7 linked regions of the Homo sapiens genome follow. The protein of the gene in region 2 interacts with the protein of the main gene of each other region in a biochemical or structural test. Each region holds a gene or a part of one and is shown on either strand. Other genes may lie near its edges.

The links.
Region 1: of the proteins of MAP3K1 (region 2) and CUEDC1, one has a biochemical effect on the other in vitro, tested with the Homo sapiens proteins (one large-scale study listed by BioGRID).
Region 3: of the proteins of MAP3K1 (region 2) and FAM184A, one has a biochemical effect on the other in vitro, tested with the Homo sapiens proteins (one large-scale study listed by BioGRID).
Region 4: of the proteins of MAP3K1 (region 2) and RNF126, one has a biochemical effect on the other in vitro, tested with the Homo sapiens proteins (one large-scale study listed by BioGRID).
Region 5: of the proteins of MAP3K1 (region 2) and GRIPAP1, one has a biochemical effect on the other in vitro, tested with the Homo sapiens proteins (one large-scale study listed by BioGRID).
Region 6: of the proteins of MAP3K1 (region 2) and CARD14, one has a biochemical effect on the other in vitro, tested with the Homo sapiens proteins (one large-scale study listed by BioGRID).
Region 7: of the proteins of MAP3K1 (region 2) and TOM1, one has a biochemical effect on the other in vitro, tested with the Homo sapiens proteins (one large-scale study listed by BioGRID).

What each region holds. Positions count from the first base shown.
Region 1 is NC_000017.11:57,864,563-57,868,460, forward strand, and holds part of CUEDC1 (CUE domain-containing protein 1), read right to left. Parts: intron 3,682-3,898; coding exon 3,588-3,681; intron 3,131-3,587; exon of another isoform or gene 3,061-3,130; intron 2,854-3,060; coding exon 2,795-2,853; exon of another isoform or gene 2,776-2,794; intron 1,983-2,775; coding exon 1,915-1,982; 3' UTR 1,912-1,914; intron 1-1,911.
Region 2 is NC_000005.10:56,881,530-56,885,839, reverse strand, and holds part of MAP3K1 (mitogen-activated protein kinase kinase kinase 1), read right to left. Parts: intron 4,271-4,310; coding exon 2,974-4,270; intron 2,314-2,973; coding exon 2,161-2,313; intron 1,177-2,160; coding exon 1,014-1,176; intron 1-1,013. UniProt on the Homo sapiens protein: Component of a protein kinase signal transduction cascade. Activates the ERK and JNK kinase pathways by phosphorylation of MAP2K1 and MAP2K4. May phosphorylate the MAPK8/JNK1 kinase.
Region 3 is NC_000006.12:119,019,382-119,023,691, forward strand, and holds part of FAM184A (protein FAM184A), read right to left. Parts: intron 3,700-4,310; coding exon 3,564-3,699; intron 779-3,563; coding exon 597-778; intron 1-596.
Region 4 is NC_000019.10:652,839-657,148, forward strand, and holds part of RNF126 (E3 ubiquitin-protein ligase RNF126), read right to left. Parts: intron 47-4,310; coding exon 1-46. UniProt on the Homo sapiens protein: E3 ubiquitin-protein ligase that mediates ubiquitination oF target proteins. Depending on the associated E2 ligase, mediates 'Lys-27'-, 'Lys-29'-, 'Lys-48'- and/or 'Lys-63'-linked polyubiquitination of substrates.
Region 5 is NC_000023.11:48,988,675-48,992,984, forward strand, and holds part of GRIPAP1 (GRIP1-associated protein 1), read right to left. Parts: intron 2,437-4,310; coding exon 2,252-2,436; intron 2,059-2,251; coding exon 2,011-2,058; intron 1,330-2,010; coding exon 1,298-1,329; intron 1,209-1,297; coding exon 1,161-1,208; intron 1,037-1,160; coding exon 937-1,036; intron 1-936. UniProt on the Homo sapiens protein: Regulates the endosomal recycling back to the neuronal plasma membrane, possibly by connecting early and late recycling endosomal domains and promoting segregation of recycling endosomes from early endosomal membranes.
Region 6 is NC_000017.11:80,176,306-80,180,615, reverse strand, and holds part of CARD14 (caspase recruitment domain-containing protein 14), read right to left. Parts: intron 2,109-4,310; 5' UTR 1,961-2,108; intron 1,522-1,960; exon of another isoform or gene 1,513-1,521; 5' UTR 1,315-1,512; intron 1-1,314. UniProt on the Homo sapiens protein: Acts as a scaffolding protein that can activate the inflammatory transcription factor NF-kappa-B and p38/JNK MAP kinase signaling pathways.
Region 7 is NC_000022.11:35,320,030-35,324,339, forward strand, and holds part of TOM1 (target of Myb1 membrane trafficking protein), read left to right. Parts: intron 1-1,712; exon of another isoform or gene 1,713-1,818; intron 1,819-1,929; coding exon 1,930-2,008; intron 2,009-2,969; exon of another isoform or gene 2,970-2,998; coding exon 2,999-3,148; intron 3,149-3,466; coding exon 3,467-3,601; intron 3,602-3,738; coding exon 3,739-3,885; intron 3,886-4,310.

The sequences.
Region 1 (3,898 bases), on a different chromosome or scaffold from region 2:
GCAGAAGATGCTAAGGCCCTGAGCTGCTGGGTGACCTCCGAGTCAATCCGAGTGATGGGAGGGGCTGTCAGCCTGCAGTGGATGAAGGAGGATGGCAGGGAAGACTCAAGGACCCTTGGTGTTTAAGGGGAGGAGGAGGAGGATGTCAACTTGCAGAAGGAGCTGGAAGGGGACAAGCTGGAAGTCCTAGGACAGAAATAAATGATGAGGTGCAGGTACGGTGGCTCACACCTGTAATCCTAGCACTTTGGGAGGTCCAGGCGGGCAGGTCACCTGGGGTCAGATGTTCGAAACCAGCCTGGCCACATGGCAAAAATCCATCTCTACTAAAAATACAAAAACAAATTAGCCAGGCAAGATAGTGGGTGCCTATAATCCCAGCTACTCGGGAGGCTGAGGCAGGAGAATCGCTTGAACCTGAGAGGTGAAGGTTGCAATGAGCCAAGATTGTGCCACTGCACTCCAGCCTGGGCAACAGAGCGAGACTCTGTCTCAAAATGAATGAATGAATGAATGAATGAATGAATGATGAGCAAGTTTCTGATGTAGGGGTGGTTTGGACAGGACCCGTTCTCCCTGGGGACCAGTAGGAAGGAGAAGGGCGTGGAGATAGTAGCAGCGTGGGGTGACAGTGGAGGCGATTCCCCGGCAGGCTCTATCTGGGCATTCCAGGACAGTGGGAAGTGGGCCGCGGCTTTGTGTTTGAGGAAAGCCTGAGGGGAATAGAAGGGGCTGCAGTGCCTGGTGGGAGATGTGGTAGGGAGTCAGGTGGAGTGGGTGTGGGGGCCAGCTGCCCAGGCAGAGAGGAGAGGGCACTTGTATTTACTTGTTCCCGGTTTCCCTCCATTGTGACTATCCTGAGGCAAGTGAGTATTTCTCCATCGTCTGACACAGGGCCATACCTGCCACACCATCAACTCAAGAAAGCCTTGTAGATGCTGCCCACTGGGACCAAACAAGTGGCTGGGGAAGGCCGGGCAGCTTCCCCTCTCCCATGGTAAACGGGGGCTGGAAAAGGGACAGCTGTCTTGGCCAACTCCTGGAGGAGGCCTTGGTATTTTCTTTTTCTCCCCAAGAGGGTGCACAGGAAGCGAGGAGGAGAAATGGCTTGGAGCCCTGGGGCTTCAGCCAGAAACCGCTGCCTCAGGAGGGTTTCCTCATCCTGGTGTGGCAGATCCCAGCCCACCCAACCCAAGCAGGGGGCTGGAGAGAGTTGTGTGTGTGCACAGCCGGGTTGAGACCACCTCAGTTTTTCTTTTTCTTTTTTTTTTTTTTTTGAGATGAAGTTTCACTCTTGTCGCCCAGGCTGGTGTGCAATGGCGCGATCTCAGCTCACTGCCACCTCCGCCTCCCAGATTCAAGTGATTCTCCTGCCTCAGCCTCCCAAGTAGCTGGGATTACAGGCGCTTGCCACCACGCCAGGCTAATTTTTGTATTTTTAGCAGAGACAGGGTTTCACCATGTTGGCCAGGCTGGTCTCGAACTCCTGACCTCAGCTGATCCACCCACCTTGGCCTCCCAAAGTGCTGGGATTACAGGCATGGGACACCGTGCCCAGCCAGTTTTTCTTAAATCATCCTCTCAGTGTGCTACGTGTGTCCTGGACTGTCTTCTCAACTGGACTGTAAACTCTTCAAGGTCAAAGCTGATTTTGTTTTCCTGTTCTCAGCATCTGTCATAGGCAGGTGTGCTCATCTTTTGTCAAATGAATAAATAACCAAAAAAGACATGCAATGAACTAGTTCCCACGCCCGTGTCCCTGCCGCAACTATGAGGGAAGACACGTGGGGCCTGTGCTACCCAGTTGCCTGAGCCCAGCGCCTCTGGACACCTGGGAGGACATGTGGGGTGCATAGTGTGGGGGGCCCTGGCCTTGGGCAGTCCCTGGGTTGCTATGGCTCCAGGCCTTACCTCTTACTGTCCTTCTCGCAGGCCTTCCTCCACCTTGGGTGCCTCCTGACGCCTGCCCCGGAAGTCTTCATCTGAAAAGGAGAGGGAAGCTGCCTCATCCTCTACCCTGCAGGGCCTCGCTCAGGCACGGCCCCTAGACTGGGCAAGAGAGCTGACCCGACTCTCTCTGCCCCCTTCATTTGGGACCCATGCAGATCCCCCCAGGTAGACGATGCATGGGTCCAGGGAGAGAGGCAGCAGGACACTCAGGTGCTGGCCAGGGTCCACCACTGAGCTCTGAGACCTTGGACAAGTTCTCCCCTCGTCTTTGGGCCTCAAATTTCCTCATCTATAAAATGGGATGGAAAAGCTGGACTATCTAGATGACCTCTGAGGCCCTTCCAGTCCTTGTTTCTGGATGCCTCCTGACCCTCGAATGTGGCATGAGGATCAGGGTTCAGCTGCGGGCCCAGGAGGGTCTGAGGCAGAGTCTTCTGGCCCACGTGGCCTTTGGAAGGGACTGGGTGAAAGTTGAGAAGCCTCTGGGCCCACAGACTGAAGCTGCCCAGTGCTTGGTTCTCAGGCCGAGGGTCCCCCATGGGGGCAGGCCTGTCTGCCACCTCACACCCAAAAGAATATTCCCCAGAAACAGTACCTGGCACTTCATGCTACAGGTACACATCTAGGTGGAAGTAGGGCTAGGGCCCCTTTTCAGGGGTTGCAGAAAGGGGGAAGCAATGTCGACCAAGTCAGGGGGATCCATATCTTTGGGTCACCTGCCCACCAACCCTCAGTGTGTTCCTCCAGGGGACAGGGCGGGTGCTCCCATGAAACACCCAGGAACTCCGCTGGGAGATCACCGATCATAGAGAAGTTGGAGCTTACGACTCCCCTCCAGCCTCACCACACGCGTGGCCCTCCACATCATCCAGGAGGTTGGCTGTTGACGCGGCAGCCCCCAGCCTGCCAGGCCATTCAGGAAAACCGTCCCAGGGATGAGGGGACACTGCCCTAGTCCTCCCAGTCCCACTGACTCTCTGCCCCACCCCTCAAAGCTCTGGAGGTACCTGACACACCCACCTGACCCCCCACACCCTTAGTACTGTCCCCCAGGCTCATTTTCCTGAGGTCAGTGGTATGGCCAGGCCCTGACACTCTCGCCCAGCTTACATCTCTGGGGATGGAGAAACAGCTTCCTCCCTGTTTCCCTCTGGCTGCTGAGCCTCTGCTATCCTAGGCCCTGTTTGAGAAGCATGAATAGGAGTTCTGATAAAAAGGTGGAAAGCCGTATTTCTACTCGAGGAAGGGAGGGCCAACATGCTTGGAGTGAGGAGGACTCGTGCACCAGTTCAACTAGAGAAATGAAGGGAAGGTTTGATATTGATGGAAGAACCACTTTTTCTCCCAAGAAGTACATAACCTCAGACCAAAAAAAAAGTTAATAGGACAACTTCTGGGCCTACAGAAGGGAGACAGGAGCTGCTGCCCTGCTCCCTAGGCCTGGTCCCTGGTTGGCAACGAGAGACGGGCAGTGGACTGGTGGCCAAGCTCATGGAGGAGAGGGGAGGAGGAAGGGAAGGCCACAGAGCCGGGTTCCACTCCCAGGGGAGGGCACAGCTGCAGGGAGTCCAACAGGGGTCTTGCTCCATGGCCCTTGGCTTCCACCACCCCCACCAGTGCCAGGCTGGAAAGGATACGACTGATGCTTCAACAAGTGTTTCCTCTTTGACTTCCTCATTTTGGTCTTCTCTGAGAAGGCTCGGGCAAGTTCAAACAGTTTCCTCCGGGTGGCTGGGGGCAGAGAGACCTGTGAGTCATTCTCTCAGCAGCCAGCACACCAGATGGCCTCCTCCCAGGTGTGGGAAAGGCCAGGGGAGGACCAAGGCCCCCCGGAGAGGGAGCAGGGGGCAGGCAAGGGTGGGAGCTGAGGAGGGAGAGATGACAGGAATCGCAGACCCCTGAGGACGCCACCCCAGGAGCAAGAGGCTACATCCTGGGTCAGCCTGCA
Region 2 (4,310 bases):
CACATTCACATCTGAAACAGAAGAAAAACATTTCAAAACTAACATATTCCTGTATCATCTCAAAAACCTACTAATTAGGAGACATTTTCACAGAACCCACAGGGAAACCAGTTTATTGGAGAGTCAAGATTTCAGAAAGCTGTAAAAGTTAACAATTTCGGATTAAACTATTTCTGAAATGTACAATTCAATTCTCTGTCTTCTCAAAATACACAAAACAACTTTATTAATGACTAAAGTAAACAATGTTAACATATTATGTAGTAAAAGGTGGAAAGAATGGGAGGAGGAACAGAAAACCCAGAGTTAGGCGTCATATTCTACCATTTACTAGCTCTGACCTGGAACATGTCTCAAATTTAGCCGCTTTTAAAAGTGTTTATAGTAGTCAACCTATCTACTGTAGTGTAAATCTTTATTAAGACCAACCAACAGATAACATACTTAAGAACTGACTGGTAAAGAGAAATGCACTCTTAAATACACACACAAATCTAAGAAGTTAAACCAAACAATCTGTTCATCACATCAGGTCATTAATTTTATTGTATACATTGTATAATACAAAATAAAACTCAGTCTTCATTTATTTCAGCAGATGACAAGGTTCAACTTTATGCTTCAGTGCTAGTTTACTTGTAGTAAGTTTTCAAGTTATATGTTAATTTTGTTTGTATATTGTTATGTTAAAACACTTCCTCATCTGTCCAATTTATCATGGCTACCTGGAAATATACATATCTTATACATATCAAGTATTAAAAACAACAATGCTACACAATCATTTAAAAACACACTGGAAAAATTTAAAAGGTAGAGGTAGTCAATATTTCATTTATAGTAAATGAAATACAAAACGAAGTATTTGTGGTTCATACTAATATATTGGGGTGATTTGTTTTTAGAAACCCAAACTATTTGATAGAAATAAATTTTAATTAAACTGGTTTTTCCTAAATTGCAGAAAGTTAAATCCACGTACTACTATTTTGTAATTTAAAACATTAACATACCTGCCATCCATTCAATGAAGAGATTGTAATTGCTCTTCTCACACGTGGCTCCCAACATCCTAATGATGTTTGGATGATTCAGATGGCTCATCATTCTTATCTCTTCTCTTAGTGCTTCTACTACTTCTTCTTGCTCAGAAGATGTGTTTCTGACATAAGTCACCTGTTTCAAATAAACACGTTCACAAAGTTTTGCATATTTTCACTAGCAATCTGATCTAAAATGAACAAATGCAAACTAGCACTTTATTAGCAACAGATGGCATTTATGCTTATGGATGCAATGTACTTTAAACAAACCCAAGTCAAACTCTTTTAAACACTAAGAATCTAGCTTAAGCAGCAGTAAACATCAGAAAAATGACAAAAATATTGGGATATAGTCAATATTCCAATAGTCTCAGAGTAAAGATGAGAAAAGCCCAAATATGGGAGAAGAATCAACATGATTTAAAAATGAAAGTTTAATAATTTTCCTATCCTGATTAAGTATGCTCGTTATAATAAAAAGTAAACCACTGAAACCCCAAGATGGCACCGCACAAGTACACTGTTGAAAGAAGTACCTGAAAACCACCTCTACTACCTACAAAAAGCAAAACCAAAAAAACCTTTGTAAGGCCCATCTTGATATTGTAGTCTTACAATAATCATACTTCAACTTTTATTTATTTTTTTTTGAGACAGTCTTGCTCTGTTGCTCAGGCTGGAGTACAGTGGTGCGATCTCGGCTCACTGCAACCTCTACCTCCTGAGTTCAAGCAATTCTTCTGTCTCAGCCTCCTGAGTAGCTGGGACTACAGGTGCCTACCACCCTGCCCGGCCGATTTTTGTATTTTTAGTAGAGGTAGGGTTTCACCATGCTGGCCAGGCTGGTCTTGAACTCCTGGCCTCAAATGATCCAACCACCTTGGCCTCCCAAAGTGCTGGGATTACAGGTGTGAGCCACCACGCGTGGCCTCAACTTTTAACAATAACAGAATTCATGATGTTTCTGGTGCTTTAGAAACATCTACTTTGAAACTAAGTTTCTCAAAGTTTAAAGAACTAAAGTACACACACGTGGACATATCCTTTATTCTTTTTACTGAACATGCTTCATTTTGTGATTTGAGTCATTTCATTTATATGCTCACTAGATATTTACCTGTTTAACAGCCATTAAAGTTCCAGTTCCCACATCTTGAGCCTGATAACAAGAAGAAAATGCTCCAAGGCCTATCTGTTGACCTTTCAGCCATTCAGTGTCTTCTCTATACGGTTGTTTTGCTTTGGTATGTCCTGGTAGAGTCTCTGGTGTCTACATATTAAACGAAAGCAATCTTTTTACTGTTAAAGGAGTAAGATTTTGTGAAATTAGTCTGCAAGATATTATTCTTATTCAGTCTGGCTTCCCAAACCACCTATAAATGTGACCTCTGAATGGAAGGTATTTGTGACCGACAGCAAATGCAAAAGTAATCACCATTATACAATTAACCGGAAATGCCCATAGGCAAGAATTATTGCTGTTTAAACAGTACAAACATTATTGTTGTATAAGTAATAATTTTATGTGGAAAACTCTGCTTCTGAATGTTAGAAGCAGCATTTCTGAATTAGGTTTATTTTAGTATGGTCCAAGGAAGCTCTCTGTGAGACAGTGTCTTGCTCTGTCATTCAGGCTAGAGTACAATGGTGTAATCACAGCTCACTGTAGCCTCAAACTCCCAGGTTCAAGTGACCCTCCCCACCTCAGCTTCCTGAGTAGCTGGGACCCCAGGTGTACACTATCATGCCTGGCTAATTTTTAAAATTTTTTGTAGAGACAGGGTCTTGCTTTGTTGACCAGGCTAGTTTCGAACTCCTGTGCTCAAGCAATCCTTCGGCCTCAGCCTCCCCAAGTGCTGGAATTCCAGGTATGAGTCACTGTGCCCAGCCCCAAGGAAGTTTTCTAACCTCTTAAAGAATCTATACTTACATCCTGTTGAATAATGATGATATCTTCTCCATTTTCAACCTGCAGCTGAGGAACTATGGGGAGGGCATCCTGAGACGCTGACATTGCCATGGCAATTGCTAAAGCTTCTTCTTCTTCAGCTTCCATCTTCTCTTTGCACTTTTGATTATGATTCACATCATCTTTGTAGGTATCATCATTTTCAGCCTTTTCAGGAGACAGGACAGCAACTTCTGACTTAAAAGTTACTGTTGTATCACTTGAAGGCATAGATGCTTCAAGAAGGTCCTCAATACTGGAGTTGAGCTCTGTATTGACATCTAATCTGCATTTCTCCTCTACTGGGGTGAACACTGTCTCGTCACTGGGTATAACAGCATTACTACTATTGCTGCTACAGCCAAAGCTGTCATCACATTTGGAACTACTGTTCAGATCAAGTGTCATGCTATTTTTTGAGGGATCTCCCTGTTTACTTGTATTACCTGGGGTAGGTCTAGATGGCTTTGGCCTGTGTATGTTACTGGAGGGCAAGGGTCTTGACTGAGTAAAGACTGGGGAAAGTTTATCTGAGTCTTTGTTTTCAGGACAGTTTCTGTGGAATTGTAGAGAAAACTTGCGCTGTGTTTGAGGAGATGCAGAAGGTATTCTGCAGGGAATGAATCCCTGAAGTCTATGCTTAGAGACATCTGTTGCAGTGCCAGCTGGTACAGATGGGGTAGAAGAAGAAGGGGTTGACAAGGCTGGAAACATTAATTGGGAATGATGAGATAAAGGAGAGGAGTTCAAACACTGACTGTGGGGTCTGCCTTTTGTTTGAACCATTGGCTTTGGTTGCTCTGTTGTTGTTGTTGTTGTTGTTGTTGAACTAGAAGGTCCTACTGAAATGCTGGCCAGTCTCTCAGAAATGTCCTCTGAACTGGCACTCAATTTTGTAGCACATAATCCTTTTCCAGTTTTCTCTAAATGGACTGTGCACTCAGGGGAACTGTTCTCTGTGGTTTCCAGATAGTTGTTGGGAACAGATGCCTGCAAGAAGCTGTCCTGTTGACCATCCAAAGTGTCTTCTACGCCCAACTGGATGGCTTCGGCAATTTCCACCTCATCTGCAATAGCCATCAAACGGCGACGCATCCTGGTGAAGTGAGTGGAACTGGAAACACTCAGCATTTCTAACAGTTTTGAAAACACATGGGGTACTGTAGTAACCATTCTTGCAGAACTCAAGTAGATCCTTCTGGAAAGTTTGCCAACCATTGAGTGGGAATTATCAATGGACTGCAAAGCAAAGGTTAAGAGGGACAGCAGCTTCTTATACCTGAAAGAAAAAAACATTCATTACCATATAAGTTCCAATT
Region 3 (4,310 bases), on a different chromosome or scaffold from region 2:
TAAGGAATGAATGGAAGTAAGTAAAGAGCAAAGAGAATAGATATTTTCAAAATACTTAGACGTTGAGGGAAAGAGAAAGAAAAGTATGTCCAAAACTCCCACTTGGTATTGTGGGCATCTGAAAAACTGGAATACATATTCAGCAATTACTCTATAAATGATGTTTCACTTGTTAAACTAGAAATTCAATTATCTTGGTATACATTTTCAGAGCTTGAAGCTTGTCATATTTTCAGTTCTACAGAAATTTCCTACATGGATATGCAGTAATATATTTCATTAATAGAAAACGAATAATGATTATAAGTATACACTCCACTGAAATAAGAGTTTATTCAATTTCTGGCTTGAAATAGGTTGAAATGTCTTAAAGTTTTTATATTATATAGATTGTTACCCACATATTTTGAACATACATACAGCATAGGATAGTCTAGCTATATACCCATTTCCTCAAAATTAGAACCAAAAATAACTACTAAAGTAGGAAATGTATTGTTACTGGGGAGTAGCAAGAAATACTCCAAATACTTCAAATGTGAAAAAGAGAAAAACGGAACTCTTTCGGGGGGAATGGAGTGTCCATTACTTTTTACCTTCTCCAGTTCTAGAATCTGTTGCTTCTGCTCTTCATCCAGACTTTGGGTTTTGCTTCGCAAAAAAGCTCTTTCCTCTTCAAGTTGAGATAATCTCTCATTGACTCTCGATTTTTCTGATTCTAAATCTTTAATTGTAACTTCCTGGGTCATTTGAGTTGCTTGAAGCATTCCAATATGACCTATCCCCCAAAAAGAAAATCCCTTCAATTTAAAAATCAGTTGTACTATGAGATAAACAGTTTACATTTAATAACACAACTGTACTTTATACTTAAGTAAAATAAATGGTCTACATGTACAAATTTTCCTTTTGTTTCTTCACTACATAAAATGGAAATATTTACATGAAAATACTTCTTAGCGCACTAGAATAATTTAAATTAAAACGTCATTTTCACATGATTAATGTTGCTTCCTGCACCTCGTACCGTTTTACTGGTTTTTTTTGTTTTTGTTTTTGTTTTTTTAAGATTGCAAGCTAAACAGGTTGAAGTAGGCGCAACTCCTCAGTAGGCTTCATAAGAAAGTCTCCTGGGAATAAAAGAAGGACGGAGAGGATGCACTGACTGACACTGTGGCGCCAAAATGAGTGATTCGTTCTTTTCTAATTTATTTTCAAATTCTAACATAAAAAGGAAGAAGTTTGTATGTAGGAAACAAAGATGGCAGATAGCAGTTTGGTTGAAATTGAATTTGTTTCAGGCAAGAGGCCAGATAAAGACCTAAAGTGGAGCTTGTAGTTCCAGCTACTTGGGAGGTTGAGATGGGAGGATTGTTTGAGCCCAGGAGTTCAAGGTTGCAGTGAGCTATGACTGCACCTGTAACAGCCACTGCACTATGTCCTGCAACATAGCGAGACCTCATCTCCAAATAAAAACAACCAACCAACCAACAACTAAGGTGATGTAAGACACAGATAAAGACAGCAAGGTTATGAAAGAATCTCTTAAATGACAGCAAAAAGCAGGGAAGGTGGAGAAAAATGAGGAGAGACAGAGAGATGAAAAGTGAGTGAAGAAAAAGGTCTCATAGAAAGGATAGTTTAAGGCAGAGGTTCTCAAAGTACCCAGGACCAGCATCACCAGCATCACCTGGGAACTCTGGTTAGAAATGTGACCCACCCCAGACCTAAAAGTGAATCAGAAACTCTGAGGGTGGGGCCCAGCATCTGTAGTTTCACAAACCCTTCAGGTCACTCCAATGTGCACTAAAGGCTATTAAAAACAACTATTTTAGAGGAAGGAAAATCTGAGATTCACTGATAAGCCAATCAAAATCAAATGAGATCCTCAAAGAACCAGCTCAAACAGCCTTCCTGGGCACACTAAACACTTAGACAAAATATAACTTCAGAACTGACACAAGTCACCCACTTCCTCCAGTAATGGTTGTGAAAAAGCATACCAGCCACTTGAGAAATAGGCAAGTCAGCTTTAGTATGTAAAAATGAACCTTAGTAACAAGCCCTAAGAAATGAACTGCTGTAATTTACAAACTTCAACTAATTTGAGCACTTTAAAATGTGTATTTTTTCAGTGAGACCTCATCTTTAAAAAAGTTAGCCCGTGGCATACCTAGAGTCCCAGCTACTGGGAAGGCTAAGGCAAGAGGATTACTTAAGCCCAGGAGTTTTAGGCTGCAGTGAGCTATGATCAGGCCACTGCACTCAAGCCTGAGCAACAGAACAAGATCCCATCTCTAAAAACTAAATAAATGCTGGCATGGTGGCTCACACCTGAAATCCCAGCACTTTGGGAGGCCAAGGTGGGAGAACTGCTAGAGCCCAGGAGTTTGAGGTCACCCTAGGCAACATGGCAAGACCCCGTCTTTACAAAAAATTAAAAAATTAGCCAGCCAAGGTGGTGCATGCCTGTGGTCCCAGCTACTCAGGAAGCTGAAGTGGGAGGATCACTTGAGCCCAGGAAGTCCAGGCTACAGTGAGTTGTGTTCATGCCACTGCACTCCAGTCTAGGTGACAGAACAAGACCTTGTCTCAAAAAATAAAATAAAATAAAATGTATATTTTTAAAGGACAACACCTCTTGAAAAGTGTGCTTCATTTTTCGTTCTTTCTTTTTTTTTTTTTTTTTTTTTTTTTGATACAGCCTTGCTCTGTTGCTCAGGCTGAAGTGCACTGGCGCAATCTCGGCTCACTGCAACCTCTGCCACCAGGTTCAAGTAATTCTCATGCCTCAGCCTCCTTAGTAGCTGGAATTACAAGTGTGTACCACCATGCCCAGCTAATTTTTGTTATTTTTAGTAGAGATGTGGTTTCACCTCGTTGGTCAGGCTGGTCTCAAACCTCTGGCCACAAGTGATCTGCCCACTTTGGCCTCCCAAAGTGCTGAGATTATAGGTGTAAGCCACCATGCCCAGCCCGTTTTTCTTTTAGTGACTACTTTATTGGTATTTTACCTGCTATTGGTATTTTTCCTCACAAAGGAAAACTCTCAAGTTTTCTATAAAAATATATTCCTAAAAATAAAAAATATTTGTGTATCTTATAAGTAATTAGTAACATATTGAGTCCTTTAACTTATTTACAGTCTAAATAGTTTTAAAATGTTAGAAGAAAAAATAAATGCTACCTTAAATTAACATTTAAGTGTTGGGGCCGAGCGTGGTGGCTCATGCCTGTAATCCCAGCACTTTGGGAGGCTGAGGCAGGGAGACTGCCTGAGCTCAGGAGTTCGAGACCAGCCTGGGCAACACGGTGAAACTCCATCTCTACTAAAAATACAAAAAAATTAGCCAAGCATGGTGGCGGGCACCTGTAGTCCCAGCTACTCAGGAAGCTGAGGCAGGAGAATTGCTTGAACCCAGGAGGCAGAGGTTGCAATGAGCCGAGATTGAGCCACTGCACTCCCGTCTGGGCGACAGAGCAAGACTCTGTCTCCAAAAAAATAAATAAATAAAGTGTTGATTTTAGCTAAGCATTACATCAAAAACTGTGGTCACACATACTAGCTTTGAGGACAAGATCTGAAGCTTGCTGTTGTAAACGTTCTCTGGCAGCTGCTAGCTCACTTTCCACTTCTTTGTGCTTGCTTAATAGGGCCATTTCTCCCTCCTTGGCATCATCAAGCTGTTTTTGAAGAACCTAAGAAAGATTAAATAGCCATTGTTAAAATGCAGGAATAATACTAAGCTAAATAATTCATTTAAATTATAAGGGTCAGCTTTCTCTTATTCAGAAGTCATACTAAACTATATACCAATTTTTAAATCTGTAAGTATTAGTGATTTATAACTTGATGTTTTCATAAACATGACCCAATCAGGAAAGGCTATTCCACACTTTCTAATCCATTCTAATGTTGCACAGATATTAAAAACATGGCTATGAAATTTTCTAAGCCAACAAAACAAAACTTGTGGACTTCCGGCATTTTTTTCCCCCAGACTTGTGCAATACCCCTATTAAATTCAGGTTTAGAAAGCAAGCAATTTCTTGATCAAATTCTAAATATCAGCTAGCAGGCAAACCATTATTAGTGAAAGGAAAAGAAAAAAATGTATTTAAACTTTAAGCCCAATATTAAAATCCTTTTGTAAATAATTAGCAATATTGTCCGCCCCCCCCCCCAGGAACAGCGTATTACCTCGCTAAGCTCACTCACCCAGGCTGGTTTCTAACACCTGGCCTGAAGCGATCCTCCTGCCTGGGCCCCCCAAAGTGCTGGGATTACAGGTGTGTACCACTGTGCCTAG
Region 4 (4,310 bases), on a different chromosome or scaffold from region 2:
GAAGCTCCTCGATAAAACCAGACTCGCATCTTGGACAGATATAATCCTGCAGGAGAGAACAGGAGGCCGGGTCACGGTGACGCCGGCATCACCTGCAAACCCCCCCAAGTGTGAGGACAGAGGGGCTCCGGACCCAGCGGTCTCTGGCTGGCCAGGCACACGCAGGCCAGGGTGGCTCCCAACCCGTGGGTCCTGGAGGGCGGCCGAGGGGACCTGGCCTCTGCCAGCCACCCGCTGACCCTTTGGTGGCTCCCGGCGATCTGAGCCCCTCCGACCTGGCCCCACCGTGACGGGCGTCACCAGCGTCATCAGCGCCTTGGCTGAGCCCCTCCGACCTGCCCCACCGTGACGGGCGTCACCAGTGCCTGGGCACCTCCTCACACAGGTGGCACCACTCGGAGGGGTGCCCCAATACCCCACAGTGGCATTTCCAGGACGCTCTGGCAGCCCCGCACACAGCCCGTTCCCCTGGCTCGGGGGAGGCCACGTCCACGCTGGCCACACCCCTGCAAGACCCCATCCCCAGGTCCCCCTAGAGCCAAGGACAACACAAGGCCAACATGGTGATGTCCCAGAGGAGACGTGAGGACCCTGCCCAGGGACAGCCGTGGGTGAGTCCCAAAACCACGTTCACAGTTCCCCAGCACCAGCCTCAAGCCACAGCTGTGCCGAGCAGGACGGATGCCATCCCCTGTGGATCTCACACTGCAACGGGATCCCCAGGGCTGAAGGGCCTGCTGGAGACACTGGCTCACAGGGCGGACTCCTCATGGATGGCTGGGCCCCTGGTGATGGCGGAGCGTGCCGAGCATTCGTGGGGCCTGGGCTGAAACGTGCATGGTGCCTCCCGGCCTCACCAGGGGCTGGGCAGATGCCGACACACACTTCCCGCACAGCCTGCAGAACTGGAAACTGGAAGCTAAATCAACTGCTCTCTATGAACGACCCAGTCTCAAGTGCTCCATCGCAGCAACGTGAAAATGGCCTCACACGGCACGTGTCATCACGCCAGGGGCTCACATGGGGGTCCCAAGACCACCCCCAGGTAACACAGACAAAAACAGGAGACAAGGCTCCCACCGTGCATGGGGGAGTGCTGTGAGGGGAGCCAAGGTCGACCCCAGGCTCTGGGGATGCAGGTTGCACCGGGGCTGTTCAGTCTTCGCAGGGGCAGGGGCTGGGACCTCTCCAGCAAGCAAGATCCCGGCCTCACCCACTGACTCTGGGGAGAAGCGGGGGTCTGGCGTGCAGTGCCCAAGGGGAGGGCCGACAGCTGGGCCCCCGCCCACACCACGCCGTGCCTGCCTCACCTGCTCCTGCCACTGAAGCACAGGCTGGGTGGGGAGGGACTAAGGCCAGGGTGAGCAAACGATGCCAGATGCACATGAACCCACCGTGAGGGGAGAGTGAAGAGGCACCATCTACAATATAGAAAAAGTGCGGCCCGGCTCCTGGTGAGGCCGGGAGGCACCACATGCGTTTCAGCCCACGCCCCACGAATTCTCGGCACGCTCCGCCATCACCGGGGGCGCGGTGGCTCAGGCCTGTAATCCTGGCACTTCGGGAGGCCGAGGCGGGCGGATCATCTGAGATCAGGAGTTGGAGACCAGCCTGGCCAACATGGTGAAACTCTGTCTCTACTAAAAATACAAAAATTAGCCGGGTGTGGTGGCGGGCGCCTGTAATCCCAGCTACTTGGGAGGCTGAGGCAGGAGAATTGCTTGAGCCCGGGAGGCGGAGGTTGCAGTGAGCTGAGATTGTGCCATTGCACTGCAGCCTGGGCGAGGGAGCAAGACTCCGTCTCAAAAAAAAAAAAAAAAAAAAAAAAAAAAAAAAAAAAAGTGCTGGCCGGGCGCGGTGTCTCATACCTGTAATCCTGGCACTTTGGGAGGCCGAGGCAGGCGAATCACCTGAGGCCAGGAGTTCGAGACCAGCCTGGACAACATGGAGAAACCCCGTCTCTACTAAAAATACAAATGTTAGCCAGGCGTGGTGGCACGTACCTGTAATCCCAGCTACTCAGGAGGCTGAGACAGGAGAATCGCTTGAACCTAGGAGGCGGAGGCTGCAACGAGCCGAGATCATGACATTGTAACTCCAGCCTGGGCGACAGAGTGAGACTCCGTATCGGGAAAAAAAAAAGTGCTTACAACTCAAAAGAAAGAAAGAAAGAAAGAAAAAAAAGCCCAGGCCAGGTGCAGCAGCTCACACCTGTGATCCCAGTACTTTGGGAAGCCAAGGTGGGCAGACCATTTGAGGTCAGGAGCTTGAGACCAGCCTAGCCAACATGGCCAAACCCCATTTCTACAAAAAACAAATTAGCTGGGTATGCTGGGGTGGGTCTGTAGCTCCAGCTACTAAGGAGGGGGAGGAGACAGGCAGGAGCGGGAGGCAGGAGGCAGAATGGCTTGAGTCCAGGAGATCGAGACCGCAGTGAGCTGTGGTCCCACCACTGCGCTAGCCTGGGTGACAGAACCAGACCCTGCCAAAAAAAAAAAGAAAAAGAGAAACAGACAACGCAACTAAAAACGGGCAAAGTCGGGAGGCTGAGGCAGGAGAACGGCTTGAACCTGGGAGGCAGAGCTTGCAGTGAGCCGAGATCGCGCCACTGCACTCTAGCCCGGGCGACAGAGTGACACTCCATCTCAAAAAAAAAGAAAAGTGGGGGGGGAAAGGACGTGTACAGGACATGCCTCCAAAAACACGCTGGGTAAACGCAGCCGGCCAGCCCCAGCGAGATGCCACTTCCCAGGGCCAGCCAGGACGAGATGCAAGACCCCGTCAGGCCTGCTGGGAGCCCAGAAGTCCCCCAGATGGAACTACCCCATGACCCACGAGCTAGAACTTTCACTCCAGGCGCAGACCCCAGAGAAACGAAGACACCTGCCCACCAAATGTTCACATGGCCAGAACTGGCAGGTGAGAGTTCACGGCAGCACAGTTCATCATCGTCGTCGGCAGATGCAAACAGCTCCAGTGTCCACCCGCACCTCAGAGCACGACTCAACCATGGAAAGGGGCAAGGCCCAGACCAGGCCACGGCGGGGGGGAGGGGGGATTGCATCTTGAGGACATCACGTCCAGTGAGAGATGCCAGACACAGAAGACCACGCAGCGTGTGATCCCACGTCTATGAAATGTCCAGGACAGGCCGAGCCACAGAGACAGAGAGGGGATGTGTGAGCACCAGGGCCTGGGGGAGGGGACGGGGAGTGACGGCTGGCAGGGCTGAGGTGGGTTCTTTTTGCAGCTGTGAGAATGCTGTGGAATTAGACTGTGGTGGTGGTTGCACAACTTTATGAATATACTACAAACGTTTCACCAGGTGAATTATATGGTGTGTGAAAATACTGAGATAAAGCTATTAAAATAAATGGGCCAGGCGCCTGTGGTCCCAGCTGCTAGGGAGGCTGAGGTGCCAGGATCGCTTGAACCTGGGAGGTGGAGGCTGCAGTGAGCCAAGATTGCAGCAACAGAGTGAGGCAGCATCTCAAAAACAAAAACAAAAAAAAGAAAGAAACAAAGAAAAAAAGGGCTGGGCACAGTGGCTCACACCTGTAATCCTAGCACTTTGGGAGGCCAAAGTGGGCAGATCACTTGAGGTTAGGAGTTCGAGACCAGCCAACATAGGGAAATACCGTCTCTACTAAAAATACAAAAATTAGCTGGGCACGGTGGTGGGTGCCTGTAATCCCAGCTACTCAGGAGCTGAGGCACGAGAATCGCTTAAACCCGGCAGGCAGAGGTTGCAGTGAGCCGAGATCATACCACTGCACTCCAGCCTGGGCCACAGAGTGAGACCGTGTCAGAAAAAGAAAAAGAAAAAGGGAAAGGGGAAGGGGAAGCAGCCAACGACCACCACTGTGGCCCTGAGCTTAGTGTGGGAGCAGTGTGGCTCTGCCACAGTGGCCGTGACAACTCTCCCCAGGCGTCGGTTCTTGGGGTGTGTTTGGGGTGTCGGGATTGGGACGCCCCACGTAAACACGCTGAGACTTCACAGTCAAATCTGAACCCCTGGTTTCTGCCGGTGTCGGGTCTATCGGGGCTCCTCTGGGCTCAGGGGTTGCCGCCGTCCGCCCGCCAGCTGACCGGGAGCCCAGGGCCGCTCCATCGCCTGGGTGGGTCTCTGGGAATGGAGGGGTAGCTCAGGGCTCAGGCTCTCCCTGCATGGTGACTCCCCAGGCTAGCACCACCCAGTGGACCTGGAACAGCTGCACTGGCCCCCACTGAGGGCAGGACGTAAGTCAGCTGTGCAGCTGCCCCGACCACCATCTCTCCTGCTGGGTGCATCCACAAGGTCAGGCAGCCCC
Region 5 (4,310 bases), on a different chromosome or scaffold from region 2:
AGTCCCAGATCCTAGAGGTCTCAAACTCACAACCTCCTAGTTTCCAGGTCCTGGTGAACTCTCAGACTGACCCCTTCACCTGTCACTCTGCTCCCCAGTCTCTTGGAATCTTCAGACCCAGTTAACCACCAGTTCCTGGGGGTCTCAGCTTTACCCAGACTCCCGTCTCAGACCCCATGTTCCCAGTTTCTAGGGACTTCAGAACCACAAGCCACCATATCCTCCATTCCAAGGGACCTCAGACTCACCTTTTCTAGAAGGAAACCCAGAGGCTTCAGAACCATCCAGCCCCCAGTCCTCAGGAGCCTCAGACCCACCTAAACTTCTGCTCCAGCCCCTGGAGGTCTCAGACTGACCAGCTTTTTGTTCACAGCCCTCAAGGATCTCAGGACTACCTAGCCCATATGATCCCACTTCCTAGGTGTCTTAGGCCCAAGCCAGCGCCCAGATCCTGAGGATCTCAAATGCACTCAGCCTTCAGCCCCAACTATCTCACCCTTGAAAGTTGTATATCTACCCAGCCATGTCCTCAGCCCTTGGGAGTCCCAAATTTACTGACATCCCAGCCCCTAAAGATTTCAAAGTCACCCAGCACCCAGGGAGTTCAGACTTACCCCAGTTCCTGGTCCTAGGCCCTAGTGACCACAGATTCATCCAGACTGTGGTCTCAAACCTCCAGGAGTTTCAGATTTACACAAACTTATAGCACACAGCCCCCTAAGTCCTTAGCCCCCTGAGATCTTACACTCATGAAGACTCCTATAACAATTCCTAGGGCTCTCCAATTCCCATTTTCCTAGCTCCTGGGGGGCCCCAGAACCCATTTCCAACACAGGAAATCTCAGACTCCCCAGCCAGCCTCCATGGACCTCAGACCTCTCCAGGCTCCCAGTCCTGGCCCCTACCCCAGGGATCTCAGAACCCAGTCCCCATCACCTGATTGGCAGCCTCAAGTTCCTGCTGCAGCTTCTGGGTTCGAGCCAACTGGGCTTTGTGATCAGCTTCCTTCCGTTGTTGTAATTCCTCAATCTTGTTCCTAGGAGTGATGGGGAGGGGGTGTGTTGGACATGGCTTGAGGCCCAGTCTCCTAGCTCTGCCCCTGTAATCTTCACTGGGCACTGTCCCAATTGTCCACCAATACCCGCAAATCTGGCAGTTACCTGCTGTCATTAAACAGAGTCTCCTTTTCTGTCTGCAGACGGCAAAAACTGGGCACAGAAGGACAGATGTAGATGGGTCAGTTCCGTAAGTTAATTCCCCCCTCGGCCCCCAGTACCCTTGGGAAAAAGAAATTTACCTTTCTTGTTTCTTTTTCAGTTTCTCGGAGAGCTGGGGAGAGAGGTACAGACAAGTGATAACATTGAGAATAATATAAAGACAAACCTAAAATTAATAAATATAGACACTTCTTATTAAGTCATTTTTGGAAGCCAGGATTTACTTATGTTGTCTTGTGGAATCCTCAAAATAGCCCTGACAAGTGAGTAGTACCAGTTTTACAAATGGGGAAACAGAGTCTTGGAAAGGTTAAGTAATTTGGTTGCTCAGCGGGTCAGCAACAACAATATTATCTCCACCCAGATCCTTCAGGTTCCAAAGCCCGGTATTTATGCTCCCAACATAGTGGCCAATGGCCATGTTATAGATTGGCTAGGCTGGGAGGCCTGGAAAGCAGGATATCATGACTGGGTGCCGCACCCCTGGGTCTCCAGGTCCTAAGATAAGAGCCAGGAGTCTGTAAATGCTTGCATGAATGAATGAATGAGTGAATGGGCAAAGCTGAGAGATGGATGGGATGAAACTTATCATGCACAAGATATAGTGGGACCACATTAACTCATTCCATACTGAAAGTAACTCTGAGACATAGGTGTGAGTCTCTCCATTTCACAGATGATGAAACCTAGGCTTTGATGGGGTACAATGCCCCTTCTGCCCTAGGATTGGGAATGGAATGGGAAAGAATCCAGCAGATTGGGAGCAGAATGGGAAAGAGCCAAGCAGCCGCACCTTAGCAAGTTCCTCCTGCAGCCTGGATGTTTCGGCCTGCTTTGAGCTCTGCAGGGAAGGATGAGGGATGGGAGGGTTGTTGTTAGCAAGGACAAGGAGAAGCCTTCCCCTGCCCTCCTGCCTCCCTCACCCCATCAGCCCACAAGATGGTGATGTCACAGCCATCTCCGTGGGACTATAGACAGAGGTAGAACATCTGCCCTGCCTTCTGGCATTCCAGCTCCAACAGACTCAGATTCACCTCTAAGCCTTGCAGCTGTTCCCAGAGCAATCTCTTCTCCTCTTTCTCCATTTCCCATTTCAGCTCCACCTCTGCCAACGGCATGGGGGCCAGGACGGTGGGGGCCAGGCCCCCTGGGGGATCCCCCTGGCCCTCACTGACAGCTGAGAACTTCCCGGCTTCTTTCCCATAGCGTTCCTGCAGGGCTGGTGAGTAGAACAGGGATATATGATGGATGAGGTGGTCTCTGAAGTCCCTTGCCATGCCTCGAATAGAGGGAGAACTGGCCTTCAACCCCTCAGGTGGCAGAGTCCCTGTGCCAAATGACCACATGCCTAAAAGACGAAGGTTCAGCTCTATCCATGCCTCTCACATTTTTTTCTTTTTTTTTTTGAGACAGGGACTTGCTCTGTCACCCAGGCTGGAGTGCACTGGAATGATCACAGTTCACTGCAACCTTGACCTCCTGGGCTCAAGTGATTCTCCCACCTCACTCTCCCAAGTAGCTGGGATCAGAGGTGTGTGCCATCATGCCGGGCTAATTTTTTGATTTTTTTGTAGAGACAAGGTCTCGCTACATTGCCCAGACTGGTCTTGAACTCCTGAGCTCAAGCAATCCTCCCACCTCAGCCTCCCCCAAAAATCTTTTTCCGTGGCTGGGCACGGTGGCTCACGCCTGTATCCCAGCACTTTGGGAGGCCAAGGCAGGTGGATCATGAGGTCAGGAGTTCAAGACCAGCCTGACCAATATGGTGAAACCCCGTCTCTACTAAAAATACAAAAATTAGCTGGGCGTGGTGGCGCACGCGCTTGTAATCCCAGCTACTCGTGGGGCTGAGGCAGGAGAATCGCTTGAACCCAGGAGGCAGAGGTTGCAGTGAGCCGCGATCGAGCCATTGCACTCCAGCCTGGGTGACAGAGTGAGACTCCGTCTCAAAAAAATCTTTTTCCCTAGACAGTCTTGCTCTGTTGCCCAGGCTGGTGTGCAGTGGTGCAATCATAGCTCACTGCAACCTCAAACTCCTGGGCTCAAGCGATCCTCCCAAGTAGCTGGGACTACAAGTGCACACCATGCCCAGTTAATTTTATTTTATTATTTATTTATTTGTTTATTTTCTTGAGACTGAGTCTTTCTCTGTCACCCAGGCTGGAGTACAGTGGTGTGATCTCGGCTCACTGCAACCTCTGCCTCCCAGGTTCAAGTGATTCTCCTGCCTCAGCCTCCCAAGTAGCTGGAATTACAGGCATTTGCCATCAAACCTGGCTAATTATTGTATTTTTAATAGAAATGGGGTTTTGCCATGTTGGCCAGGCTGGTCTTGAACTCCTGACCTCAGGCGATCTGCCCACCTTGGCCTCCCAAAGTGCTAGGATTACAGGTGTGAAACACCGTGCCTGGCCTAATTATTTTATTTTTAGTACACACAAGTTCCTGCTATGTTGCCTAGGCTGGTCTTAAACTCCTAGCCTCAAGAGATCCTTCTGCCTCAGCCTCCCAGAGTGCTGGAATCAAGGTATGAGCCACTGTGCCCAGGCTCTCACAAATATTTTAAGCCCTATCAACCACTAAGATTCTGTTTACTATTAAATTAGCCCAAGCTGGTTTCACAAATCCCATTCTCAATCCTTGAAGCCCCACCCATAGCCCTTGAAGGCCATGCCCACCATATGCTACCACTGACTTACAGCTGAATCCCTCCTAGAGCCTCCTAATTCCTACTCACATTCTACTAAGTCTCCCTCCTGGTCATGGAACCAGCATCCATCACCACAGAAGTCCCAGCTGCTCTCCAAAGTTCCACACACCACATGCTCCCACACTCTATCAAGCTTTCTTTCAGCTTTCATCCCAGACCCCACTTACAATCTGGGCTCAGAATCTTCCCAACACTCCATTCACTTTTTCACTTAGCAAATATCTCCTTTTTTTTTTTGAGATGGAGTCTCGCTCTGTCGCCCAGGCTGGAGTGCAGTGGTGTGATCTCGGCTCACTGCAAGCTCCACCTCCCAGGTTCACACCATTCTCCTGCCTCAGCCTCCAGAGTAGCTGGGACTACAGGCGCCCGCCACCGTGCCCGGC
Region 6 (4,310 bases), on a different chromosome or scaffold from region 2:
AACAGAGCAAGACTCTGTCTAAAAAAACAAAAAAAAAAGTTCCCATTGTTTTCAACTACGCAGCAGGTGGTCCCTTGTTTGCAGCGGCCCAGGACAGTGACACAGAGGACTGCGCAGAGGACTCCACATGAGGGAAATGTGCTGGGGAGTGACACTGGGCACAAGTGCCTCGCAGAAGACACTTCAGGGTAGTAACGGCCAGCACGGCTCGGCTGCGGGGGGTGTGGGCTTACAAAGATGGCGAGGCAGACAGAGGGTGGACAGGTCCCCGAAAGGGCTGAGCTGCAGCTGATCTGGGGCCACCACCAGGGCTGATGTCCCAAGCCCAGGTCTGTCTGGACAGAATACACGAAGCAGGTCGCCGTTACAGCCCGGAACACCTGCTCTTCAGGGGACATGCTGGCTAGTGCAGACTCTAAGAGCTGTTGGAGGTCCTCAGCCGTCACCTGCCCAGCCTCCCATCCCAGCGAGAGATGAGCTGTGTACCCCACTGTGCCCCTGCCTGAGCCCCTCTCTGGCATCAACATGAGGCCATTAGCCCATTAATCCATCTAAATAATTTTAAAATGTTTTAAAACTGTGCACTGTTTTCAGCATATTAAAAAATCCTGCAAATAACAAATATCCACATATCTACCATGCGGATTCAACCATCTTGACATTCTGCACTTCAGGTTTCTTTTTAAGGAAATGCGAGGCAGATGGCGCCTTTTTGTTCTCTTCAGTCCCTCTTCCCTCCCTCTCTGGCCAGACATTCTAAAATCATTTAAAAATGATTTTTTTTGAGGTAGGGTCTCACTCTGTTGCCCAGGCTGGAACGCAGTAGCGTGATCGTGGCTCACTGCAGCCTTGAGCTCCCAGACCCAAGCAATCCTCCCACCTCAGCCTCTCAAGTAGCTGAGACCGCAGGCATGCGCCACCATGCCTGGCTTCTTTTTTAATTTTTGTAGAGATGGAATCTCCGTATGTTGCTCAGGCTGGTCTCGAACTTCTGGGCTCAGGTGATCTGTCTACCTCAGCCTCTGAAAGTGCTGGGATTACAGTCCAGCCTAAAAATGATATTTTAAAAATCATTTCCTACAAATGGAAGTGTGTATAAACAGTACATAGCATCTTTGCATGATACTTCGTGCAGACAGCAGCTTTACATCAACAGTGCCTTCAGTGTTAGCTGGAACTTCACAGAAACTATCGTTCTGTGCAAGGCTGTACGGCTTCTGAGGTTTCTCATACTGATACATGCAGCTTGATACATGCATGGTCCTTTAAACTGTGCACTGGATTCAATGATATGAATAACCACAGTGGACTTACGCTCCTGTGGGAGGATATCAGGTTGTGCCTAATTTTTCTCCACTGCTCACAGAGCTGCAGCCACCGCCTTTGTTAATCTCCTGGGCACAGATGGGAGCGATTCCTTACAGACCCATGAATTCCTGTGACTTGATTCTTTTCATTTGGAAGGAGAGGCTGGACCACTGGAGACAGATGCCTCTTGCAGGGATCTGTATGCTAAAAATACTTGAAAATCAGAGCAAATCAACACCTGTCATCTGAAAAATGGAAAATGGGCCGGGGCCAGTGGCTCATGCCTGTAATCCCAGCACTTTGGGAGGCCAAGGCGGGCAGATCACCTGAGGTCAGGAGTTTGAGACTAGCCTGACCAACATGGTGGAAACCCGTCTCTATTGAAAATACAAAAATTAGCCAGTCATGGTGACGGGTGCCTGTAGTCCCAGCTACTTGAGAAGCTGAGGCAGGACAATCACTTGAACCTGGGAGGCAGAGGTTGCAGTAAGCTGAGATTGCATCATTGCACTCCAGCCTGGGTGACAGAGTGAGACTCCATCTCAAAAATTAAAAGATAAAAATAAAACATGGAAAATGATCGTTGGAGAGTCGTGTGTGCAGGAGCAGCGCCAGAAGCCGTCCCAGGAGCCGGGTCTCCGGAAGTACTCACCAAGGTTCTCAGGTTTGCTTTTGCAGGAGCTCCGTGCAGCAGGGTGGGGTCCACAGTCCCCGCAGTGTCTCCAAAGCCCAGTGTGGTGCCAGCTGCCTCCTTTCTCTGCGGGCTGCTGGGTGGGACGGAGCTGGGCAGAAGGAAGAGCCTGAAGTCAAAGCAGCACCAGGTGAATTGACCGTGATTTCAAAGCCATGTGACCTGTTCCAAAACTCAAGGTTCGGTCACAACCACCGCAAGCGGCGGGGAAAAGACGTCAGACTCGGATCCGGGAAATAACTCGACGGACCTTTGACCCCTGTGGTTTTCCCAGTAACTATTGAAGCTTCCTTAGCACTTGGAAGCAGACTTCTAGAATGGACCTGGGCTTTGAACCCTAGACTACCAAGGAGAGTTGACAGGCGCAGTAGTTATCCAAAGCACCCACAGGCCTGTCTGCGGCTCCCCACAGGGCCAGGCCACTCATACCCTTCTGCTGAGTCTCCTTGCCCGGAAGGAAGAACAGCTGGAGAGGACAGTGACGGGCGCAGAGGCCGGGGTGGGCAGGTGAGGAGGAGAGGAGAACCAATCGAGGGCAGCTCTGCCTCATTCCTTCTGATCTCAGTCCTGTTTCTCACTGGAACAGGTGATTGAGGCTTGCGAGTCAGGGTGTCACTGATTGTGGCCCCCCGCAAAAGAATGCTGAAGTCTTGACCCCCAGTACCTGTAAGTAGGACCTCATTTGGGAATAAGTCTCTGCCAACGTAATCAAGTTGAGGTCATTAGGGTGGGCCCTAGTCCAGGGATGGGTGCCCTTATAACAAGAGGAGAAGGGCTGGGTGTGGTGGCTCATGCCTGTAATCCCACACTTTGAAAGGCCAAGGCGGGCAGATTGCTTGAGCTCAGGAGTTTGAGACCAGCCTGGGCAACACAGTGAGACCTTGTCTCTGCTAAAATCTGCTAAAAAAAAATTTTTTTTTTTTGAGACAGAGTCTTGCTCGTCTCCCAGGCTGCAGTGCAATGGCACAATCTTGGCTCACTGCAACCTTTGTCTCCCGGGTTCAAGCAATTCTCCTGCCTCAGCCTTCTGAGTATCTGGGATCACAGGTGCATGCCACCATGCCCAGCTAATTCTTTATTTTTAGTAGAGACAAGGTTTCACCATGTTGGCCAGGCTGGTCTCGATCTCCTGACCTCAAGTGATCCGCCTGCCTCGGCCTCCCAAAGTGCTGGGATTACAGGCATGAACCACTGCACCTGGCCTAAAAAAATTTTTTTTTTAATTAGCCAGGTGTTGTGGTGCACACCTGTAGTCGCAGCTACTTAGGAGGCTGAGGTGGGAGGATCGCTTGAGCCTGGGAGGTGTAGGTTGCAGAGCTGAGGTAGTGCCACTCCACTCCAGCCTGGACGACAGAGCAAGACCCTGTCTTAAAAAAAAAAGAAAGAAGAAGAAGAAGAGGAGGAGAAGGGCCCTAGGCCTAGACACCCCATGATCACCCCATGTTGGCAGAGGCCGAGACTGGAGTGACACGCCAAGGGTCGGTGGCAACACTAGAAACTCAAGAGAAGGCATGAAGCAGACCCTCCCTGGAGCCTTCATGGGGGTGCGGCCCTGCTCACCCCTGGAGTGTGGACTTCTGGCCTCCAGAACCATGAGCAAATACATTTCTGTTGTTTTAAGCCACCCAGTTTGTGGTAATTTATGACGGCAGCCAGAGGGAGCGTGCACAGGGGCAAAGGCGATGTGGAAATTGTCCGTCCATCTCCAGGGATGCGCTGCCAATGGGCACACTCCCACAGAAGGCTCCTGAGCTCCTGGGCCTCCACCCAGTAGAAGCCTGCGTCGCTAGAGTCTGACTCCAAGTCAGAATGATCCTCTGCCCCACTTCAGGACCAGCTATATCGTCTGTGGAGCTCAGGGCAAAATGAAAGGATGGTGCGTTTGTTTTAAAAACGTATTCAGAATTTCAAGGCAGCAATAGCGAGCAATAAAGTCAGCCCAGGGCCCCCACTCCAGCCCTGCCCTGCATCACCGAGGGGTCTTCAGGCCCCCTGTCTATCAGGATGTCAGGATGGTAGCTAAAGGTAGGGGATGTTTCCTTTACAGATGATGGAATGTCCTAAAGTTAACTGTGGCGGCGATTGCACACATCTGTGAATACACTAGAAGCATCTTAAACGGGTGAATTGTGTGCCGTATGGGTTATAGCTCTTCCTTTTTTTTTTTTTTTTTTTTTGAGACAAGGTCTTGCTCTGTTGCTCAGGCTGGAGTGCAATGGTGCAATCTCAGCTCACGGCAACATCCGTCTTCTGGGCTTAAGTGATCCTCTACCTTAGCCTCCGGAGTATCTGGGAATACAGATATGTGCCC
Region 7 (4,310 bases), on a different chromosome or scaffold from region 2:
GATGGGTCCCAGTGGCCACTGGCCAGGCTGAGAAATGTTACTTGTGCTTCAGTAGTGTGATGGGCTCTAGGAAGGGAAGCTGTCCAAAGAGAACACCATCCCTGCCCTCTAGCAAGCTTCTTCTCTACCCAGGGTGGGCCCCCAGTTCAATGTGGCATGGCAGAACAGGCCAGGGAGACTGGAGGACCTGGGAAAGTGTTGTGGAAGGGGTGGATTTTAGCTGAGGCTTCACCTCATGGATGTGGAGGTCAGGAGCCTTCAGGGTGCAAGTGGGGGCCCTGCACAAAGGCTTTTAGACAAGAGCAGTCAGGGCAGCACTGAGTATACCTGTATAGGGCCGAGGGTGGAGGATGGTGGGAATCACAGAGGGGACAGGGAGAGCAGGCTGGCACCCCAGCTTCCAGGGGCCTCCCAACACCGTGACCCCTAGGCTTCTTCAGCCCTCCCCGACCTCCCCCACACTCAGTGTGGCCTCCTCTTAGTTCCTCCAAGGCATCAAGCTCCTCTGCACCCAAGACCTTGGTCCAGGCTCTGACCTTGACCCAAACTGCTCTGCCCCCACTCCCCCCAGGTGGTCCTTCCCATCTTTCAAGGCCCAACTACAAGACCACCCCCTCGGAGGTCTTTTCTGACCACCCCCATCCTCACCTCTGCTCTTTTTCCAGGACCTGCTTATTCCTTGCTCTTCTTTGGATCTCCCCGCAAGGTGGGGAGGAGGCAGGGCCATATGGTCTTGTTTGCCACTGTGTCCCCAGCACCTAGCATGGTGCTACATACATATTGGGTGCTTAATAAGAGTTGAATGGGCCAGACATGGTGGCTCACACTGGTAGTCTCAGCGTTTTGGGAGGCTGAGGCAGGAGGATCACTTGAGCCCAGGAGTTCCGGGCTACAGCGAGCTGTGATTGCACCACTGCACTCCAGCCTGGGCGACAGAGTGAGACTCTGTCTCAGAAGGAAAAAAAAAAAAAACTTGAATGGAAGGGTAAATGGACAGATAGAGCAGCTGGCCAGGACGGGGCATCAGAACACTATGCTAGCTGGGCTCAGGGACTCATGCCTGTAATCACAACATATTGGGAGGCCGAGGTGGGAGAATCATTTGAGCCCAGGAGTTTGAGACCAGCCTGGGCAACATAGCAAGACCCCATCTCTATTTTTGTAATGAAAACATTATGCCTCCAGGTTATTTGTTCTTAAACTTGAGCATGCATAAGAAACCCTTGGGGAGCATGAGAAGCATTCAGATTCAGGGGCCCCACTCCCTGAGAATTTGGTTCAGGTGGTCTAGGGTGGGGACCTAGGGTTCTGCTTTTTTTTTTTGAATGTCCTTTGTTTTTTTGAGACAGGGTCTCACTCTGTCGCCCAGGCTGGAGTACAGTGGCGCAATCTCGGCTCTCACTCTGTTGCCCAGGCTGGAGTACAGTGGCGTAATCTCGGCTCACTGCAACCTCTGCCTCCTGGGTTCAAGCGATTCTCCCGCCTCAACCTCCCAAGTAGCTGGGATTACAGGGTCATACCACCACGCCCGGCAAATTTTTGTATTTTTAGTAGAGACAGGGTTTCACCATGTTGGCCAGGCTGGTCTTGAACTCCTGGCCTCAAGTGATCCACCTGCCTCAGCCTCCCAAAGTCCTGGGATTACAGGCATGAGCCACCGCGCCCGGCCAGGTTCTGCACTTTTAACAAAACGCTCTCATCTTTTCTCAAAGTGACTCTGCTGCTGGAGGTCCAGGGGCCACAGGTTGTGAGTCCCTGCTAAGCAATGGGCTAGGAAGATTCTGATGTGATCAGAACCTGGCTGGATACACAAAACAGGTGGGGCACAGGGAGGATGGGCCAATAAGAACTGTTCCAACTCTCCAGGGTCTCTGGTGTTAGGTAAGGGGGCTCTATTCCTAAGCCCACCCTTTTTCTTGTCCTCCTTAGTCCCAAAGATGCCCTCCGAGCAGTAAAGAAGAGAATCGTGGGGAATAAGAACTTCCACGAGGTGATGCTGGCTCTCACAGTGAGTGCCCCATCTGTCTGTCCTGTGGCAGGACTACGGTCCACTGAAAGTCACCTCCCCTCAGACCCAGCAGGACTCCCAGCCTCCTCTGAGCTCCTCATTTGAGAGCTGGAAAGGTCTGTAGGCAACGCACTGTCCTGTCTACACTGCAGGCGGATGCAGAATGGCAAGAGGCCATTTGGAAAGGTTCTCCCCAATCCCCCAGCATGGGAACAGACGCTTACATCACTCCAGAACCACTGGCAGGGAGAGCCTGGGCCAAAGGACCTGTGGGTGACATTGAAGCTCAGTAAACCCAGGCCTCCGCGGGGGCAGGGAGGCCGGCTGACTGAGTTGGGTGCTGCTCGGCACTTTGGTGCTCTGGCAAATGAATGTAAAATAAATACCAGTGGCTGAGAACAGTCTTGCCCACACCACTGAACCAGCCCAGATCTCAGGGCGGCCAGACACACGTGGGCCTCCTAGCCGTCAGCATGGGTTTGGCTGGGGAAGATATAAATGCTGTCCCACCCTCCTCCACAAGCAGCATTTATATCCAGGTGAATTGGCTTAAGCAAAAAGCAAAGGCAATTCCTGCAGTGGGAAGTGGAGAGTGGGGAGGGAAGTTCAGTGCCTTTTCCCTGGGCCACAGGCTCACCAGTCGATTGACATCTCAGATGCTCCTTGATTTCCTCTTGGAGAGCCCCTTCTCTCTAGACCATGTTTAGCTCAGAGACAGCATTGGGATTCTGCGTGCACTGACGCCAGTCAGGGAAGGAAGTCCAGCCCACACACCATACCTCTGCCCACCCTAGGCCGTGCCCTCCAGTAAACAAGTCCCCCAGTCCTGGCATTGTCCCAGTCCTCCACATTCAAGGGTCTCACTCCAGGAAGTCCCATCTCCTCTCCCGGGCCTCCTCTCTGGGACACAGGAGGAGCCACGAGGGTGGGGGTTCTGAGCACCTCCTCTCCTCTGACCAAGGTGCTCGACGGCACCTCTCGGCCCTCCAGGTCTTAGAAACCTGTGTCAAGAACTGCGGGCACCGCTTCCACGTGCTGGTGGCCAGCCAGGACTTCGTGGAGAGTGTGCTGGTGAGGACCATCCTGCCCAAGAACAACCCACCCACCATCGTGCATGACAAAGTGCTCAACCTCATCCAGGTGAGTGCCAGGACAGGGCAGGGCACGGCCAGGAAGAGCTGTCAGTGCAGGAGCTTCCTGCCCAGTGGAGAGTCGAGGCCATCGTGTTTGTCCCAGGCTCCGCTTCTCATTTCGGGGCGTCTCGGTTGTCGGCTGGTGGGATGTTCTGTGGGGAGGGAGGCTTGCCAACTGCGTGCTTTGCTGTGGAGTGGGCAGGGCAGATGTAGTTAAAAAAAAAAAAAAAGCAGGGAAAGAATGTCTGTTCTCTGTCTGAGTGCCAGGTGGGCAGGCTCACAGGTGAGCTGTGGTTACCGGCTGTGTCCCCTTGTCCCCTCTCAGTCCTGGGCTGACGCGTTCCGCAGCTCGCCCGATCTGACAGGTGTGGTCACCATCTATGAGGACCTGCGGAGGAAAGGCCTGGAGTTCCCCATGACTGACCTGGACATGCTGTCACCCATCCACACACCCCAGAGGGTGAGAGAACTGCCGTACCGGGAACCAAGGGAAGGGAGGCAGGACTCATCCCCAGAGACATCACCAGGCTGGCCCCTGACTTCCTGGGCTCTTGATGTTCCCAGGAGCCCTCACTGATCCTGTTTTCCTCCCACTAGACCGTGTTCAACTCAGAGACACAATCAGGACAGGATTCTGTGGGCACTGACTCCAGCCAGCAAGAGGACTCTGGCCAGCATGCTGCCCCTCTGCCCGCCCCGCCCATACTCTCCGGTGACACGCCCATAGCACCAACCCCGGAACAGGTAAACGAGCCTGGGGTCAGAACCGTCAGGTCCAGGCAGGTGGGCCACACACGTCAGGGAGGGCCCCCTGTCAGAATTTACCATCCACGGAGCCTCCACTTCTTCCTCACAGCAGCCCACAGGGTATGTGTGGTTCTTCCTGTTTGAGCGATGAGACTCAGAGAGGTCCATTCACTTGCCCAGAGCACACAGTCATCAGAGACAGTTGGGATCCAAGCTCACGTCTGTCTGACTCCTGGCAGGCACTGCCCTGTACCTTGGCCATTTTCCAACCTGTGTTTTCTGCGGGGCCCTCCAACAGCACCATGGAGAGGTGTCCTGTACGCAGCCCCTTCAGGCCAGCTCCACCTGTGTGGTTTCTTACACACTCACAGCTTTCATTTGAGCTGGGCATGGTCACGTGCGTCTGTGATCTTAGCTTCTCA